Linked DNA regions of Homo sapiens: region 1 is linked to region 2. Evidence: fine-mapped expression QTL. A gene starts in region 2. The other region holds a variant in brackets. All regions are shown on one strand. Distances are between the middles of the regions. Region 1 overlaps PISD (phosphatidylserine decarboxylase). Region 2 holds the start of PISD (phosphatidylserine decarboxylase).

The links. PIP is the estimated chance that this variant, and not a neighbour inherited with it, causes the effect.
Region 1: its variant is fine-mapped to the expression of PISD in testis (GTEx, PIP 0.97).

The regions. Positions count from the first base shown.
Region 1 is chr22:31,621,873-31,631,785 of GRCh38, forward strand. PISD (phosphatidylserine decarboxylase) reads right to left here. Exons shown (of 8, transcript NM_001326411.2): 4 at 1-13. Among named protein-coding and RNA genes, the nearest start is that of MIR7109, 5.3 kb to the left of the region's middle. RefSeq lists enhancers at 1,507-5,964, 2,601-3,154, 3,707-4,260, 4,814-5,366, 8,491-8,785 and 2 more and a silencer at 8,713-9,132. The variant G/A (reference allele first, on the strand shown) is at 4,621.
Region 2 is chr22:31,658,420-31,668,332 of GRCh38, forward strand. It overlaps PISD (phosphatidylserine decarboxylase), which reads right to left and starts at 3,796. Exons shown (of 8, transcript NM_001326411.2): 1 at 3,725-3,796. The coding sequence starts at 3,789. RefSeq lists enhancers at 1,633-2,527, 2,528-3,421, 2,717-2,856, 2,830-4,029, 3,247-3,296 and 2 more.

The DNA of each region.
Region 1 (9,913 bases), 37 kb before region 2:
TGTACAAAGCCACCTGCAGGCCACAGGGCAAGGGGCTGAGTTGACCACACTGCCCCAGCTCCAGAGAGCCCAAGTAGTGTCATTAGCCCAGCTCTCACTTCAGGGGAGAATCTGCACCCCACGGAGGACACCAGGGCCCAGGTGCCCCACGCTGCTTTTGTGATGTGGCTGTTTCTCACTGGGAACCAGACTGCACCTGCCACACGGAGTGCTGGATTTACATACAACTCCAGTGGATTTCATCATTTCATGCAAAAGTCAAATAGCAACTGCTCCAGTCCCAGAACGGGAGACGCCCAGCAGTCTTACTTCTTAAAGTGGGGGTCGGAAACGGATCTGATCCTAACCACAGTGTGTGACCCTAGCCACGGTGACCCCAATATCACAGTGTGTGGAGAGGTGGTGGGCATCTTGCCCGTGGTCACTGCCCATATCCCAGACCACCAAAGGAGGAGGCTCCCAAGTGCATGGAACAAGTCTACAGCCCAAAGTGTGTCCCTCTGTCTTAACAGGAAGAAGGAGGATACCCTGAGCACCAACAGGGATTTTCAGATGCAGGTCTGCGATGTCACTGTCACCTGGGCCTGAGCTGCAGACACAGGGTCTGCAGCCCCCACAGGTCCAGCCAGCACTCTTGAGGGCCTGGATGCAGCCAGTCTGAGAAGCCCAGCCCTGCTGAGCCCCACCTTGGCCCCACGGCAGGACTTGTGTTCAACGTTCTACTGTGACTGAGCCAGGCCATAAAGCCATCTGCACCTGGGGTTCCTCCCAGGAGGCAAAGAGAAGTCATCCCCTCAGGCCCCTCTGTTCTCTCTTCCTTCAGGGAAGCCTGGAGCACCTAAGACAGACGATGGCCTGGGGACAAGCACTGGGTCCCACTAGATGGTCCCAGAGCTCTCCGGCAGGGCCAGGTACCCAGGAAGGGGCAGCCTCTTAAACTTCAGGTGCTGCTGCCACTGTAGAAGCTGCCTGTAATTGGTGGCTGCTGCTTCTCTAAACACAACCAAGACACCAACTCCCCAAGGTGTAAAACTGATTTCATTCCAACTTTCAACACCTCTCCAAGGTAAGGTAAGCTCCCAGAGAGCTGCTCTTATCCCTTCCAGCTGATGCCCAGTCACACAGAAGGGCTATGTGAGCCCAGGCCCTTCCCAGGCACAGGTGGGAGCCTGGGCTAATGTCCAGGGTGCCTCAGTGCCCCTGAGCTCTGATGACACCCATGTGACTGTCAAAGGCCCAGGAACAGGGTTTCCTCCTTGGGGTCAACCTGCCTGGGAAGCCAAGGGCAAGAGCAAGCCCTCTAGGGACCAGGAGAGGACAAGCCAGTTCCCTTGCCCATTCCTGGGGCATGCCTCTGGGTTCCTTAAGGGTGTCCTCACCCTAAGGGACCCAAACAGGATCCATCCATCCTGAACCACCCCTTTGGCATCCCGGAATTAATTTGGCTTCTGTTCAAAATCACCTATAAGCTCTTTTTTGCTTGAACACAGAAAAATCAGAGACAGACACCATTTTCTGAATCCCCAGACTGGGTTCCTTCCAGAACCAGAGCCCCAAATGGCAGACATGAGGCAGGCTAGGGGAGTGGGCAGGGCACGACATGCCCTCGCAGTCACCCGCGGCCCAGGTAGTGGCCTTCTCAAAAGCTGCCTTGGCCTTGCCCACCAATGAACCTTCCGACCCGGACCCCCTGAAGATGTAGCGGTGACCTCTGCTTCTGACAGCTCGCCACCACCTCAGTCTCTCCTGCACCCCAACCTCAGGCCTGCCCGGAAGGGAGGTCCGAGCCACAGGGGCCTGTGCACACTTACCCTGCTTACGGGCCTCCATCCCACCCGGCTGAGCGGTCTGAGGGCGCCGAAGGGCAGGAGGTAGTAGAGGACGGTCAAGGGCCAGGAGCGCAGTTTCAGAGCGGGTCTGGACATGCAGCTCAGCTGCCCCAGCCTCCGCCTCAGGGCCAGCTGGGGGAAGTGCAACCTGCAGGGCACAGGTCCATGCACAGCCAGGTCAGTGGCCAGGCTCTGGGCAGGACCCAGGAGGCTGCCACCTGCACCCAGGGCAGGATTCCTCCTGTCTACCCACCCTTGGCAAGCTGCCTCTCCATGGGGGTGATGGAGCCCAGCAAGCACTGGCTGTGCCCCCTCGTCCCAACCCCATTCTGATTCAGGGGCTTGGCTGCCTCTGGCTAGCGGACTCATTTCCCAGGCTCTCCCACCCGCCAGCCAGCTGGGGAGGACTGGGAATGTGGGGGCAGCCGCAAGAGGAGAGTCAGGCCCAGCTGCGGGGCACCTCTCAGCTGCAGCAGCTCCCAGCAAGGGCCTCCAGGCCCAAGCACCTGGGCCCAGGAAGGGGAGAGCAGGGTGTAGGGCCTGCCTCACATCCCTCAGCCTCCGCAGCCCAGGAGAGTGGGCCCCAGGGGCCAGCTCTGCCACACAGGCACTGGCACGGCAGCACATAGCGCTGAGGAGCTACGACCCAGCCAGCTGGGTAACCATTTGCTGAGTCTTCCGCTACCATCCTTTGCAGGATCTGGGATATCCTTTTCATGGTTCCAGGCCCCCCCTTTCCTCATCTGCTAAATTACGGGGCCAAGGCCAGACAAGATCTCAAAGGGAGCATTTACACTCCGCCTACCACCACCACACAGCTACGGCTCCATCCATCTGCATGGTCTTTCTATAACAGGCCAGGTTCTGAAAACCCATCCACAGGTTTGTGAACAAAACCTCCCCACCACAAGCTCTCAAGCCACCTGTCTGCTCTGCTGGGGCTGCACAGACAGACACACACACACACACACACACACACCCATCCCAAGCCCCTCCTTTCAGCAAAGGTGGACACACACACACACACACACACACACACACACACACACACACACGAGACCCAAGCCCCTCCTTTCTGCATCCAGCCTCTCTGTGATCCGGCCTCTCCCCACCCTCCCAGCACAAATGCAGGGCACTCAGCAGGGGCTCAGCTTCACCAGAGCCGCAGAGGCTGGACGGGCCTTTCCACCACAACCCTGGCCTCCTGCGCCTAAACAAGGCCCACCCCACCCTGTCTGTGCCTAGGCCTAGCAAATGCTCCTGAGGCCCAGGGTAGCCAGCAGGAGACCACACTGCCATCCACTCAGAACGTCCCCAGGTCTCAGTTTCCTCATCTGCAAAGTAACTGCATTTAGCTAATCTACGGCTGCCATCTGGGACTGTGCTCTCAAGAGAAGCTGAGTCCTCTCTCCCAGTTGCTGAGCAAACCAAGGAACAAAGCAGCATCTCAGCTGATAGCAGCAGAGCAGACGGCAGGCGAACCAGTGGCGAACCCCGCTCAGGCTCAGGCTCAGAGCTGGCTGCATCCACGCAGCTCCCGGGTGCCTACTTTCTCTCCCATCGCACCCCGGTGTATTTTTAAAAGGTCCAGGAAGGTGGCAGGGGCCAAGCAAAGACAAATCACTGCTCCCCTCTGGCTTTGCCACCTGCCCCACTCACTGCAGAAGAGCAGGGACCAACTGGGAAGAGCTACACCCCTCCCATGGGCAGGAAGGGGAATGGGGAAGCCTCTCTCCTAGGTGGGGTGCAGAGGCAAGGGTCTGGGCTGCGAGCAGGGGGCCTGGGAGCACCAGGGTAGGGAAGATCGCAGGCATGAGGTCTGAGGCTCGCTGGCAGCCTCCCCCTGCTGGGCCCTCCTCATGGTTGGAACCAAAGATACCTGAAGCGGGCTCTCCGACTCAGGGTGCTCAGGCCCCCCAGGCCAGGCTCCTCCAGCCTCGGGGGCTGACCACCAGTCCCCTTGCCGCCACCTCTACTGCGAGGCCGCTGGATGTGAACTCTGACCTTCCGGAGGTCGTGGCGGGGAACCGTGGGGTTAGGGCGCGGTGGGCAGCATCTCACCATTTCGCCGCGCGGAGCTCTGGTCCTTGCCGCGCCTCTGACTGACACATCATGGGCCGGCGCAGGGAGGGCGGGGCGAGGCTCACTCGATCACTCCCTTTGTTTTCCTCTTTCCTCCCCTTCCCCCGAGCCAGCAGATCTCCTGTGCTGTCACTGCTCCAGGGCCTCTGCCTCTGCGAGGCTGGTTGGTGGCGCCGCTTCCTGGGTTTGGTTCAGTCTCGGTGGCTCACAGGGTGCAGAATAGAGGGTCAGGGCTATTGCAGACAGACAGGCACTGGTCACACACCTGCTCAGGTCACCTGCTCAGGGCTTGCAGTCCAGTGCAAAAGCCCCTGCACTAAAGCCCACTGTCCCCAGTCCTGGCCACCTGCTCTGTCCCTGCTACCCAGGGCTGAGCCAGCCTGCACTGCTCATCCTCTTCCTCAGCTGGCCTGGGGAGGCAGTAGGGGGCAAGGCCCTAGGGCTGCCCGGTCCAGTAAGCCATGACAGGGAGGGGACCAGCCACTGCTGCCAGGGCTTTCAGGCCCCACTTGGCTCCAAACGCACAAAGTGGGAACTTGAGCCCCGTGCTCCAGGCCCAGGCCCAGCACCGCGTCAGCCGGTCTGCAGTTTGGCCCCTCCCTTGCCAGGACCTGACCCATTTTCAATTCAGGTTACAAAGTAGCATCTGAGGAATGAGATGAGCGGGAAGCCACGAGAGGTGCCCTGGTGAGAACCTGGCATCTTACCT[G/A]CTCTGGCTCTCTCCTCACCCCTCCTGGCCTTGACCCCCCACCAACACACACACAAAATACCCAGCTCCCTGCTCCAGGCCTCCTCAGAAGCTGTGCATGTGGGGAAAACCAGCCTGGGGCTGGGAACAGGCCAGGACTGCAGCACAAACCAGTTCCACTCCCCTTTTTCCATCGTTGCTTCAGAAAAGCACTTTGGCCAGGGCCCCAGCCTGGCTATCTGGGAGGACACACCCGGCCCCTACAAAGCCTCTCCACCTTGGCCTGCACAGATAGCGGAAGGAAGAGCAAACATGCTGAAGCTGTGCTATCTCAGCCCAGGCAATCAAGGCCCTCCAGGATATGGGCTGACAGGGAGCCCACCCCTCCAGTCCTTCACCCCCAGCCACTGCCCAGGAAGGGGCAGGCACCTGTCACCATCCTTAGATGATGAAATGTGGCCCCAAGAGCTGCCATCTAAAGCAAAGAATAGGCCAGGCATGGCCAGCCCGCCATGAGGCCTAACTCAGACATCGCTGTGGTCGCGCGTGGTTGAACATCTGACGCCCTGGCAAACCCTCCTCAGCCACACAGGTGAAGATTCCGCCCGGGAACCTGCCTGCAAGAATCACCGAAGCCCCGGGTATGAGATTCAGTGGCCTCTTGGAGCCAGGACAATAAGGTGACTAAGGTCAGACACAAGCGTGGATTTCTCCCCCGATCCAGGCTGGGGCTGGTCCAGGCCCCTCTCCTAAATGAGTGACGGGGACAGCTCACTGCAGATGGGTCAGGCAGGAGGGCGCCTACCCACCAGCAAACAGATACACACCAGCATCCTCCCTTGGGAAGGTGCCGGCACCAGGAGATTGGCACAGGCACAAGAGGCCCATTGCATCTCAAGGCCGAGGCCCAGGCCCATAGACAGCCCCAGTGTCCAGGCCTCCAGGGCCATGTCACTCCAACCACTCCGCCAACATACTGAGCAAACGCCCCACCCTCCCTGGCCCACCAGGCTCCATGCTGGCCTCCTGCCATCTGCCCAGGAAACAGGGGTGATAGCAGTCAGGGGTGAGCCTGGTGCCTGGTTCCAAAGGGGAAGCTCTTTCCCTGGTCTATAGAGTGCAGGCTTGGAACTGAGCTCACAGCCAGGATTCAGAGGGAGGCAAGCGTGGCCTTGAGGGGAGGCAGAGAGGAGGGGCCTTGGGGAGCCCCAGCCTCCTGCCAGTTTTCCTCACTGACCTACCATGTGGGACAGTGACGACCACAGCCCTGAATGTATTAGAAAGACATGAACCCAGATAAACCCAGCTCGGCCAAAAACCTTGGGTTCTCAAAGCAGGTTCCCCTGTGAGCCTTGGCATTTCATTCTCCCATGGTGCTGTGAGGGGCTGGGTCTGGCCTCCGGTCTCAGAGGGGGCCCTACTGAGGAATCAAGGCACATGAGGCCAGGGGCCAGGTCAGATGCCCATCAGGGAAAGGTGAGCCCTGGAGAGACTAAGAACCATCCTGAGAGGCCAGGCTGGGGCACCGCACCTGCCAGTGAGCCCAGTGAGGGCAGGGCGTCCTTGCCCATTTAGATCCTTGTCTTTATCACTGTTCTGCCTCTTCTAAAACAAGCGCCGAGACCAGGGTGTCAGTGCCTCCATATCACCAGCTGTGGGCCCCAGAAGATCGCCAGGGAGGAAAATGAATCCAGCTTTGCCCCAGGACACAGGCTGAGCACCGTCTGTCCCTCTCAGAGCTGCAGGATGGAGAGAAGGGGCGCCTAGAGGTTGCTGCCTTCTTGCTTCCCAAGGCCAAGCCACTTCCTTGGCCAGCAGTGTTTCTGGCCTCCCTATTTCAAATCCTGGCTTGCCCTCTGCCTATGACAGCCCTGGAAGCCCAAGCCAAAGATTTCATCCTCTCTGGCTGTCTTGAGGTGACACGAGGTGGGAGCCTCAGGCCCTGGATGAGGAGCTTGCAAGAAGGGTATCCAGAATGGAGGAAGCACTGACACCTTCCCTCCCTTCTAAGCCTCAAAGACATTCTGTGGAGAGGAGTTTAGGGTTGTGACCAATAGGACTTTAATGTCACTACATGGCCTAAGGGCCAGTCACCTGCAACATGAGAACTCAGAGGGCTTTGTGGCTGATGACAACCTGGTCACTGCAATCCTGGCTGCCTTCCTCTACCTCTGCCCTGAGAGCAGGGAAAGGCATTGGCAAGTCACAGGTAGTCTCTAAGTCTTGGTTTGTACATCTGGAAAATGGGAAAGGAAATTCCTCCTGGCCACCCCCTTGAGGCTCAGAGCACAGCTGCAACCATGGCCCAGAACAACTGCTCAGAAACCCCACTTCCACCTAGGAGCGCGACGCAGCCTCAGACCTGGCTTCCAACACCTCACCTCTCTTTCCAAAAAGTCAACCTCACACTCCGGTGGGGGCAGGGGTTTCCACCACAGGAAAGATGAAATAAGAGGGGCTTAGGTGGCAGTTCTAAAACAGGAACCCAAACTTGCGCGGAGTGACCGGCCCTGTGAATAGGAAACAATGGCTGATAGGACCGTATAGGGGGTAGGGGAACACCTTTGTCAGGACATGCTGTTTTGGGGATCCATACCAGAGCAGTAAGGCAGTGTCCCCACCCGTCCCTCACCAACCAGGGTAAAGACCACAACACCTGCCCCCCCAGTGGAATGGAACATTCCAACTGAAGTCGATGAATGACCCCAGGCCAGGCAGCAGTTACTACAGGTTGGGTTGGGGCCTGCAAGATTGTTGTGCGTGAGGGGTAGGTGCATGTAGGTGGAAGTGTGTGTGCATGGAGGATACGTGTGCAGGTGCAAGGGTATGTGCATGGAGGGGTGCGTGTATAGGTGCGAGGATGTGTGGGGTGTGTAGGTGTGAGGGTGTGTGTAGGGGGTGTGTAGGTGTGAGTGTGTTATGCGTATAGGTGGTGTGTGCGTAGGTGTGAGGTTATGTGCCTGGAGGGGGTGTGCACAGGTGCAAGGTGTGTGCATGTAGGAGGCATGTGCGTAGGTGTGAGGGTGGGCGCATATAGGGGTGTGTATGTAGGTGCGAGGGTGTGTGTAGGTGAGGGGGTGTGTGCCTGTAGGGGGCGCGTGCGTGTATGGGTGTGTAGGTGCAAGGGGTGTGTGTAGGTGAGGGGGTGTGTGTAGGTAGGGGGTGTGTGCATGAGGGTGTGTGTAGGTGCAGGGGTGTGTGTGTGTAGGGGTATGCGTGTATACACTTACAGTCCTGCTCCTAGTGGATTCTGGTTCAAGCCTTAGCAAGGCGGAGCAGGCAGTGAGGGATATGGCACTGTCACCTGCAGTCTGCAGCCCGCAGCCAGCTCTGCCGGAGTATATGTAGCTTTGCAGCTTGTGTGTTCAGCCAAGGACCCTGAGAACTGGCTCCTGCTGTCTGATGGGAAGCGCCTGGAACGCCAGGACCACCCCTCTTGAAGCCTCAGCAGAAACTTCCAGGGCCCCAAATCCTGTGTCCAGTGGCCTGACTGCGGGCCATGCACTTCCCCCGGGGGCGAGGGTGGGGGCAAGGGGCTGACTTTCTCCCCAGCTCAGCTGAGGCCTGGCCACCATGCAGCGGCGTGCGTCTAGTGGGGCGACAACCCTGCCTTCCCTGCATTCCTGAGCTAGAAGCAGGCAAACTTCCCAAGTAGGAGACGGGGAAAATGGTCCTCCCTGGGCGACATGGACCAGAGTCAGTGGCAGGCAGCCCAGGAGGCCCTGGGAAGAGGGCAGGCAGGACTCGCAGGGGTCTATCCTAGCCGCCCAAAGACAGGGAACCTCCTCTCAGACAACTCTGGGTGCTGAGGGGAACCGGCTCTGGGCAAAGGCAGTAAGCCGGCCACCCGCTCCCTGGCCCTCGGGCGCCGCCCTCTTCCCCAGGCGGCCTGCCCCCAGGCCCTCCGGCAGCACCAAGGAGACGGAGCTCTCAGCCCGGGCCCCGCCAATGCCAGCCGGCACCCCCTCACTTCCTGCAGCCGCCTCACTGCAGGCACCCCCTCACTTCCCGCGGCCGCCTCACTTCCCGTACGCTCTTCACTTCCCGTACCCGCGCCCGGCAGGAGATAAGATGTGGAGGAAGTGAGCTCACGCAGCCCGGGCCGTGCCCACGTGGGGACGGAAAAAAAGCCCACGACTCGCTCAACCTTGTCCGCGGGGCTCCTCAGGCCGGGGCCGCGTCGTCACAGCTGGGAGAGCCCACCTGCGACCGAAGGCCCTAGAAGGGCACCCCCACCCGGCACTGGCCCTCTGAGCGGGCAGGGTGGGGCGCCTCCCTGAGAAGTCACCTGGGGCTCCCGGCAGGGCCGGGGCGCCGGCTCCGCTCACTCACCCGCAGGTGGCTCCAGCTTCCGGGCTCCGACTCCCTAGGGGCGCTCCCGGAGCCGGGAAGCCTTGGGGCGAGTGGGCGGGGCTCGGGCTCCAGCCACTCAGACTACCAGGGGCGGGGGCAGGAGGCCGACCCCAGCCACCCTTAAAGCTGCCGCCCCCTCTGAGCCCCAGTCCTGCTGGGCCGTCCGCCCAACCCGAGGGCCCCTTTAAGAGGAAGGGCCAAGGCCAGGGAGAAGGGGAAGGGCAGCAGACACCAGCTCTGCTTGGTCACTGTCACGGGAGGACCCCACTCAACCAGCAAGGTGGGCCCGGCTGCTCCCAAGGGATGCCTCCTGTCTGTCCTCAGTCTGTCCGCTGGTCTGTGAGCCGCCTGTCTGCAGCCCGTGGCTGGCCTCCCAAAGCAGCTGCCTCCCCTCCACCACCCGCGACCCAACACTAGGCAGACTCAGGACCCCACGTGCTGCTGACCTCACTGAGGACCAGCTTCTTCACTGGACTGAACAGAAAGCCACCCCTGCTAGCCCTAGGAAGCTCCAGAGAATGCGAAATCCTTGATCCTTCCCGCATCCCATCTTGAAGCTACAAGGCTGCTCCCACCCCAACCTTCTGCCCTCCAGGCACGCAAAACCCTGACAAACAGAATGCCCTGACTCCAAAACTGATGTAGACCAGCGAACAAGGGCAGCCAGAAACAAGGTCCGACCGCCCCAGCCTAGAGCACACAGGCCTCCCTGCTTCACTACTAGGATGCAGAGCCCATGGGATGGATGATGCATGCTGTCTTCCCACCCCGCTAGATCGGAGGGCCCTAGTCTGCGGCTTGGCAGTCCACCCCGTACCCACATGGTGCCAGGCATCCGACAAGCACTCAGCCCACATGGGATCAGACCAATCAGCTTAATGCTTTTAGGGGAGGGGAAGGGTCTGAGAGGGATCACCATTCAACCAAAGAAAAGGTGTGGCATTAAGTAGCCTTGTTCACA
Region 2 (9,913 bases):
CTAGTTAGACTGTTATTATTAAGAGTTGATATTCAGCTGACATACACTGAGATGGTCATATCAATCATCTATGACCAGCATTCACTCTCACTAGTCTGTCTCCATGGCATCCTGGTTATAAGTTTGTTTGTTTGTTTGTTTGTTTTTTGAGACAGGGTCTCACTCTGTCACCCAGGCTGGAATGCAGTGGTGAAATCACAGCTCACTGCAGCCTCGACCTCCTGGGCACAAGTGAACCTCCCACCTTAGCTTCCCAAGTAGCTGGGACCACAGATGTGCACCCAGCCATTTTTTGCGGAGAGGAGGTCTCACTATGTTGCTCAGGTTGGTCTCGAACTCTTGGGCTCAAGCAATTCTCCTGCCTCAGCCTCCCAAAGTGTTGAGATTACAGACATAAGCCACCACACCTGGCCAGTTGCACTATTTTTTCTTTTTCTTTTTTTTTTTTTTTTGAGACAGGGTCTCACTCTGTTGCCCAGGCTGGAGTGCAGTGGCATGATCTTGGCTCACTGCAGCCTCAACCTCCTGGGCTCAGGCAATCCTCCTACCTCAGCCTCCCAGGTGGCTGGGACTACATGTATGCACCACTATGACCAGCTAATTTTTGTGTTTTTTGTACAGATGGGTTTTTGCCATGTTGCCCAGGCTGGTCTTGAACTCCTGAGCTCATGCAATCCACCCGCCTTAGCCTCCCAAAATGCTGGGATTACAGGCATGAGACACCACGCCCAGGCCTAAGACATTTTTAACATCACCCCTAGTAGTAACATTTTGCCTATAGTCCTTATGTCTCCCTTGCTTTCTAAAGCTGTGAAAGTTCTCCTAAAACAGAACGGACAGACCTCTTGAAGGCTTTATCCCGTATTCCACCATGTATTACAAGTATATAGTAAAGTTCCTTGAAGACAAGGCCTATTTCAAATGTTTTTAATTTCTTCATTTGCTCCCCTTCCCTTCTCTCTTCTCCCTTCTCTATGGTCCGTTGACAGTGTGGTTTGCAGTGGTAGGGATGCCATAAATATTTCTGATGGAAGTCATGCACGAGAAGCTACTTCCTAGGTACTATTGTCCGTACTTGCCTGAACCTAAGAATCACCTGTAAAAACTACAGTTGCCAGAGCCCCAACTTATATCTACTGAATCTGAAATTGGCAGTAGGATGGGGGCATATCTGGAATCTTTTTTTTTTTGAGACGGAGTCTTGCTCTGTTGCCGAAGCTGGAGTCCAGTGGCGTGATCTCGGCTCACTGCAACTTCCGCCTCCCGGGTTCAGGAGATTCTCCTGCCTCAACCTCCTGAGTAGTTGGGACTACAGACACACGCCACCACACCCGGCTAATTTTTGTTAGAGACGGGGTTTCAGCATGTTGGCCAGGCTGGTCTCGATCTCCTGACCTCATGATCCACCCACCTTGGCCTCCCAAAGTGCTGGGATTACAGGCATGCGCCACCGTGCCCGGCTTTGTTTTTTTTAATCAGCCAGCCTCCCAAACTACAGCAGGCTCAGAGAGACTCCCAAGGAATCTCTATTTCTAACAAGCATCCCAGCCCATTCAGCCCATTCTTTTATCAAATGAGTTTAGGAAACATGGCCCTAAATTATCACCCAAGATGTTATCTATCACCTGTCACACATCACCCAGTTATTGAAAAACTTACCTGAAATATAAGGTTTTCATTTACATGTCTCACAAATAGGCACTGGTTTACTAAAAACCCACAGAAATGTTATCTTTTTGGTTTGTGTATTAATATCATTTCTATCTTGATATAGAATACCTTTGAAAATTAAGGTTTCTTATTGTACCCAAATCTTCATCTCTCTCACCCACTGCATCTAAGTCTAGCCTTATCTATCTACACTGGTACTAAAACATAGCTTTTTTTCTTTCCCTTTTAATGATGGTGACTGAGGTACAGCCTCCTCTCATCATTTAAAAAAATTATTTTAGGTGGACTGCGATGGCTCACTTCTGTAATGCCAGCACTTAGAGAGGTGAAAGTGGGTGGATCACTTGAGCCCAGGAGTTCAACACCAGCCTGGGCAACATGGTGAAACCCTGTCTCCACCCCCACCCCCAAAAAAAATGCAGCTGGGCGGGGTGGCGTGCACCTGTGGTCCTAGCTACTCAGGAGGCTGAGGTGGAAGAACTGCTTGAGACCAGGAGGTGGAGGCTGCAGTGAGCCATCATCACACCACTGCACTCCCTCTTGGGCAACAGAGTGAGGCTCTGACTTCCAAAACAAATAACAACAACAAAAAACAATTTTTTAAGAGTCTCATTTTAGTCCTTTCAATTCGTGACACACTTTATTTATTTTTAATTTTTTTGAGACAGAGTCTCACTCTGTCGCCCAGGCTGGACTCCAGCGGCGCAGTCTTGGCTTATTGCAACCTCCGCCTCCCAGGTTCAAGCAATTCTCCTGCCTCAGCCTCCCAAGTAGCTGGGATTACAGGTGCCTGCCACCATGCCCGGCTAATTTTTGTATTTTTTAGTAGAGACAGGGTTTCACCACATTGGCCAGGCTGGTCTCGAACTCCTGACCTCAAGTGATCCACCCACCTTGGCCTACCAAAGTGCTGAGGTTACAGGCGTGAGCCACCGCGCCCAGCCTGTGACACACTTTAAATGAATTCAGGGTTGACTCATACACAGCACGCCTGGTAATAACATTGAAAACAAAGTCTCCTGCCCAAATTCTAACAGTTACCACCACAATGCAGAGCCCTCTCCTGAGAGATAATCATTTCTGTACAGTTAATGATGAAAGAGTGACGCTTTCATAACAAGACCAATGATGGTTTCTGTTCCCTCTCAGTCCAAATCCAGTGTCCGTCTCCTCCCAAAACAATAGGTTATCCTCTGATCAACGCTGACAAAATGAACCCTGTAGGAAACACACAAGTATGGCGCATCTCTCAAATCTTAGCTCTTTGAAATGACACCAGGCAGCCGACTCTGAATCACAGCTACATTTTAATCCATTTTCCGACACTCCAAATGCTCTAAGCTATTTTCTGTATAACCACTGCCCTCACGGCGGGCAGCCTGAGAGAAAGATCGTCGCGTGAGGGGGTACCTTGATGGGGGTCCGGGCTCTGCTACAAACTGGCTAGGTGAACTTGAGCAAATCCCTCCCTCTCTCGGAGCCTCAATCTCATTAACTCCAAAGAGAGACAGCTGGACTCAGAAGACCCCTCAAGTCTCCCACATTTCTAAGAATCTAACAGCTGGGGGTCACAAGGGTAACCAAGACTCTAGCCCCATAACATATTGTTTTGAGATTACCTAACCTAACCCTCTAGCTTCAAAGACTAAGATCCAGAAATGAAAGTTGCCTGACACTCAATCTAGTGTCCTTCCCACAGGACATCATTCCTTCTACGAAAACGAACACACGAGAAAATGGCATCTGAACATCTGAAAGCCCTGCCTCGACTCAAGAGACGGGCAGGTAGCCTATTTCATCTGATTTTTGTCCCTCGTGAACTTCCACCTAGCTGGAAAGGGCAAAGCGCGAGCTTCTAGGCCACACCCTAAGTAAATCCGGACCGCCCTACGCAGGAGCAGTCGCACCTGCTCCTAAGCTCGAGGTGAAGGTGGCTCCGTCTCCACCCGAGCTCGCCTCAGAGCGAGCCCGCGACACAGAAACATCTCTCTTCAGACCCCAGCTTGGTCCAGGTTGCCCCACGCCCCAAGGTAGTCTCTCCGCGCTGCTATACCTGCTCCGCCACGGCGCGACCCCGTGCAGTAATCCCAGACATCGGTGCCCCACGGACGTCGCCATCTTGTCTGCTCCTTCTCAGCGTGCCACGCCCCCTTCACACGCTGGGCGCACGCTTAAGGCGTCACGAGTCTCGAGTTCAGTGGGCCAATGAGAAAAGCGCGGGTTGGGGGCGGAGCCGACTAAGCTCCGCCCTGTGGCTACTCCCCACCTAACCCGCTTGGCACCTGCGGAGGTAGGGGAACTAGTGGAGCTGTAGGTTTCGCTAAACCTGGGCTTGGTCGCAGCACTGCCACTCCTCCTCCTTCCCTCTGGGTGCCTTTCCTCATGTACCTGGAAAATCTGAGTCATCCAAGATCCAAGAATGTCGTTTCAAGTGATCGAACTTGCTCATTTTACGGATGGGGAAACTGGGCATCCATGACTCAGCTCTCGTTTTTTAAGCGCCGGAGTGTGTTGTGAGCACTTTGCAAGCATGGTGTCATATCATTCTTATCTCCTACCGCTGTGCTGCCAGGGAGACCGGGGGCAAACGGTCTTGGATCACCTAGAAATGCAACCAGTCGTTAAATTCGGTGCCTGGTGCTTGCTCTTGAAAAGGTTCCTATCTTCAATTGTAAGAGGAAAACGAGTTTTCAATCATGTCTGCTACTTTTTACTGAGCACTGACTAGAGACTCGCAGCTAGGCCCGAGACATTATCCCCATTTTAAAGATGAGGTACCTGAGGCTCAGGAAGGTTAAGCAACATCTTCAAGGGTACATAAAGGGCATATGCCCAAAGACTATAAAATAGTGAAGCCAGAATTTGAACATACGTCTCTGACTCCAAAAACCATGTCCTAAACATCTTCTTCTTTTTTTTTTTTTTTTGAGACAGAGTCTCTCATTGTCGCCCAGGCTGGAGTGCAGTGGCGCGATCTCGATTCACTGCAAGCTCCGCCTCCCGGGTTGACGCCATTCTCCTGCCTCAGCCTCCCGAGTAGCTGGGACTACAGGCGCCCGCCACAACGCCCGGCTAATTTTTTTATATATATTTTTCGTAGAGACGGGGTTTCACCATGTTAGCCAGGATGGTCTCGATCTCCTGACCTCGTGATCCGCCCGCCTCGGCTTCTCAAAATGCTGGGATTACAAGCGTGAGCCACCGCACCTGGCCTAAACATTCTTCCTTTTAAGCCCTTTGTCAGAATCTGGCAGAATTTGGGTCCAACAACTGAAGGAATGCAGCCCTACTTTTTCATCTGCTAAGCTGATAATCACAGTTGCCTTCACCAGGCATTTGACAGGAGGAGGAATATGCTCCCTGGTCCCTGCAGGTATTTCTGTGTAGTTGGCTTAAGTTCAACTAGGGCATACTCAGCTCCTACAGAGAGCTTAAAAGGCACCAGGTTTGGTATTGGGGGGAAGAAACCTCCCTTTGTCATGGTTTTCAAAAGTCGGAAAAGAAAAAAACAAATGTATAGAATTGGTTTTGGCCGGGCGCAGTGGCTCACGCCTGCAATCCCCACTCACTGGGAGGCTGAGGTGGGAGGATAGCTTGAGCCAAGGAGTTGAGACCAGCCTGGGCCGGGCGCGGTGGCTCACGCCTGTAATCTCAGCACTTTGGGAGGCCGAGGTGGGCGGATCACGAGGTCAAGAGATTGAGACCATCCTGGCTAACACGATGAAACCCCATCTCTACTAAAAATACAAAAAAAATTAGCCGGGCGTGGTGGCGGGCGCCTGTAGTCCCAGCTACTCTGGAGGCTGAGGCAGGAGGATGGCGTGAACCCGGGAGGCGGACTTGCAGCGAGCCGAGATCGCGCCATTGCACTCCAGCCTGGGTGACAGAGTGAGACTCCGTCTCAAAAAAAAAAAAAAAAAAAAAAAGGAAGTAAAAAAGAGACCAGCCTGGACAACATAGTGAGACTCCATCTCTTTTTTTTTTTTTTTAAGAGGCTGGGCACCGTGGCTCACCCTATGATCCCAGCACTTTGGGAGGCCAAGGCGGGCGGATCACCTGAGGTCAGGAGTTCGAGACCAGCCTGGCCAACATGGTGAAACCCCATCTCTATTAAAAATACAAAAATTAGCTGGGCATAGTGGCGCCTGCCTGTAATCCCAGCTACTCCAGAGGCTGAGGTACGAGAATTGCTTGAACCCGGGAGGGGGAGGTTGCAGTGAGCTGAGATAATGCCATTGCACTCCAGCCTGGGAGACAGAGTGAGACACCATTTAAAAAAAAAATACATATTGGTTTAATTGGTTTTACTATCCAATTGAGAGTAGTAAACCAGCAGGGAATGGGGGGAAATTATTTCCAAATGAAGTGCATTGGGAAAACTGAATATCCATATACAAAAAGTAAAGTGCAGCCTTACACCATATACAAAAATTCATTCAAAATGGATCAGAGATGTAAACTGAAGAGCTAAAACTATAATACTCTTAGACGAAAACATAGGGGAAATCTTCATGACGTTGGATTTAGCAATGATTTCTTGTATATGACGTTAAAAGCACAGGCAACAACAACAAAAACAACAAAAAGATATACTTCGAAATTAAAACTTTTGTGCATCAAAGAACACTATCAAGAGAGTGAAAAGACGCTGGGCGCGGTGTCTCACGCCTGTAACCCCAGCACTTTGGGAGGCCAAGGCGGGCAGATCACCTGAGATCAGGAGTTGGAGACTAGCCTGGCCAACGTGGTGAAACCCTGTCTGTAGTAAAAATACAAAAATTAGCCGCATGTGGTGGCGCAAGCCTGTAATCCCATCTACTCGGGAGGCTGAGGCAAGAGAATCACTTGAATATGGGAGGTGGAGGTTGTGGTGAGCCGAGATCGTACCATTGCACTCCAGCCTGGGCAACAAGAGTGAAACTCTGCCTTAAAAAAAAGAGAGAGAGAGAGAAAAGGCAACCCACAGAATGAAAGAAAATGTTTGCAAATCATGTATTATCTGATAAGGATATTTGCTCATTACTGTCATGTAGATGGGTGGGGAAGAACCTATTTTTCCAAGCTTACAGGAAAATAAATAAATAAATGGCTCACTGAATGCTTTTAGAATAAAAGTCTCCAACTTTATTTTTTGAGACAGAGCCTCACTCTGTTGCCCAGGTTGGAGTGCAGAGATGCGATCTCGGCTCACTGCAGCCTCCACCTCCCGGGTTCAAGCGATTCTCCTGCCTCAGCCTTCCGAGTAGCTGGGACTACAGGCGTGCCACACACCCAGCTAATTTTCGAATTTTTAGTAGAAACGGGTTTTCATCATGTTAGCCGGACTGGTCTCAAATTGCTGACCTCAAGTCTGCCCGCCTCGGCCTCCCAAAGTGCCAGGATTACAGGCGTGAGCCACCGCGCCGGGCCTGACAGTCTCAAACTTTAAAGCACGCTTCCTGCCCACCAAGGCTTGCGCTCGCTGTGCCTCCTTCAGTAGGAAACAGCATTAACTTCCGTAAGATCCTGTCTTTTGAGACCCCGTCTCAAAAAAAAACAACAACAAACCGACTTAAGCACTCGAATCTTCGGCAGCTTATCTATACATTTGGATATCACTTAACCTCATGGAATTGTGAGGACAAAATAATGCAGCGTAAGTTCAAGGCACCTGGTAGGTGCGAATTACTCAACAACTGGGGGCATTAATTTCTGAGATTTCTCTGTGGCCGCTAGGGGGCAGAATTAGCCTAGCATTTAAGAACGAGCTTGCTTGGCTGGGCGCGGTGGCTCACGCCTGTAATCCCAGCACTTTGGGAGGCGGAGACGTGCGCATCACGAGGGCAGGAGATCGAGACCATCCTGGCTAACACGGTGAAACCCCGTCTCTACTAAAAATACAAAAAAATTAGCCGGACGTGGTGGCGGGCGTCTGTAGTCCCAGCTACTCTGGAGGCTGAGGCAGGAGAATGGCGTAAACCCGGAAGGCAGAGCTTGCAGTGAGCTGAGATAGCGCCACTGCACTCCAGCCTGGGCGACAGAGCGAGACTCCGTCTCAAGAAAAAAAAAAAAAACGAGCTTGCCTCAATTTTGTTTTCAAAGGATTTTTGCAGTGTGGATGGTAGTGGCAGAGCTTCGAGGCTTTCGTGAGCCCCAAGCACTTTTGCCTCAGTGGACTGACCCTTTTCTCCATAAAAAATTAAGAATTTTATTTTACAACCGTATTGGTATAAAGACTATTGTCTTTATATTAACACATTTATATTTATAAATCCAAGCTGAATTCATTATTATTATATTCTTTTCCTTTTTTTCCTTTGAGACAGAGTTTCACTCTGTGGCCCAGGCTGGAGTGCAGTGGCCCGCGATATCGGCTCACTGCAATCTCCGCCTACCGGGTTCAAACGATTCTCTTGCCTCAGCCTCTCCAGTGCCTTCAATTACAAGCACTGGCCACCACGCCTGGCTAAATTTTGTATTTTTGTTTAGAGAGACAGGGTTTCGTCATGTTGGCCAGGCTGATCCCAAATTCGGGGGCTCAAGTGATCCTCCTGCCTCGGCCTCCCGAAGTGTTGGGATTACAGGCATGAGCCATCGCACCCAGCCTCATTTTTTAATTTTAATATTAAAAATTTTGTTGTGGGTCCTTAGCACTTTTTTTCTTTTTCTTTTTCTTTTTTTTTTTTTTTTTTTTTGAGACAGGATATTGCTCTGACACCCAGGCTAGAGTGCAGTGGCACAATCATGGCTCACTGCAACCTGGACCTCCCAGGCTCAAGCAATCCTCCCACCTCAGCCTCCCGAGTAGCTGGGATTACGGGTGCACACCACCACACTCAGCTTATTTTGTATTTTTTATAGAGATGAGGGTCTCACTATGTTACCCAGGCTGGTCTCCAACTCTTAGGCTCAAGTAATCCTCTTACCTCGACCTCCCAAAAAGTTGGGATTACAAGTGTGAGCCATGGCTCCCAGCCAGCACTTTTCCTATTGTCTTAGTCCATTTCTTAATCTGTTAAAATTGGGAAACATTGGTAACTACCTGATAGGCACAACAAGGTTTTATTTTGAGATGATAAAATTTGTCCTGAATTAGACAGAAATGGTACACCACGTTGTGAATGTACTAAATGTCACTGAATTGTCCACTTTAAAATGGTTGATTTTAGGCTGGGCACAGTGGCTCACACCTGTAATCCCAACACTTTGGAAGGCCAAGGTGGGTGGATCACCTGAGGTCAGGAGTTCAAGACCAGCCAGGCCAACATGGTGAAACCCTGTCTCTACTTTTTAGTAGAGACAAAATTAGCTGGTCGGGCTGGGCTCGGTGGCTCACACCTGTAATCCCAGCATTTTGAGAGGCCAAGGAGGGCGGATCATGAGGTCAGGAGTTCGAGATTGCCTGGCCAATATGGTAAAACCCTGTCTCTAGTAAAAATACAAAAATTAGCTGGGTGTGGTGGTGCATGCCTGTACTCCCAGCTACTCAGGAGGCTGAGGCAAGAGAATCGCTTGAACCTGGGAGGCGGAGGTTGCAGTGAGCCGAGTAACTGTAATATCAGCTACTCAAGAGGCTGAGGCAAGAGAATCGCTTGAACCTGGGAGGCAGAGGTTGCAGTGAGCCGAGTAACTGTAATACCAGTTACTCAGGTGGCTGAGGCCGTAGAATCACTTGAACCCAGAAGGCGGAGGTTGCAGTGAGCTGAGATTGCGCCACTGCTCTCCAGCCTGGGTGACAGAGCAAGACTCCATCTCCAAAAAAAAAAAAAAAAAAAGGAAGATGACAAGCATTGGAGAGGATGTGGGAAAAACTGGAATCCTTGTACATTGCTGATGAGAATGTAAAATGGTGCAGCCACTGTGGAAACCAGTTTACCTTGTTCCATCTCAAGCTAGTAATCCCAGCTCTCTGGGAGGCTCAGGCAGGAGGATCACTTGAGCCAAGGAGTTTGAGAAAATGGTGAAACTCCATCTCTACAACAAATAGAAAAATTAGCCCAGCATCATGGTGCATACCTGTAGTCCCAGTTACTTGGGAGGCTGAGGTGGGAGGATCACCCGAGCTCAGGAAATCGAGGCTGCAGTGAGCCACGATCATGCCACTGCACTCCAGCCTGGGTGATGCACCCAATTTATAGTGTTATAATGAGGGTTTGCAACATTATTTGTGTGCAGCACACAGGAAGTGCTTGATAAGTGGAAGCTGCTAGCTTTGTTATTATCACTGTTTAATTTTAGGGCTGCTGCCTCTCAACCTTGCCCA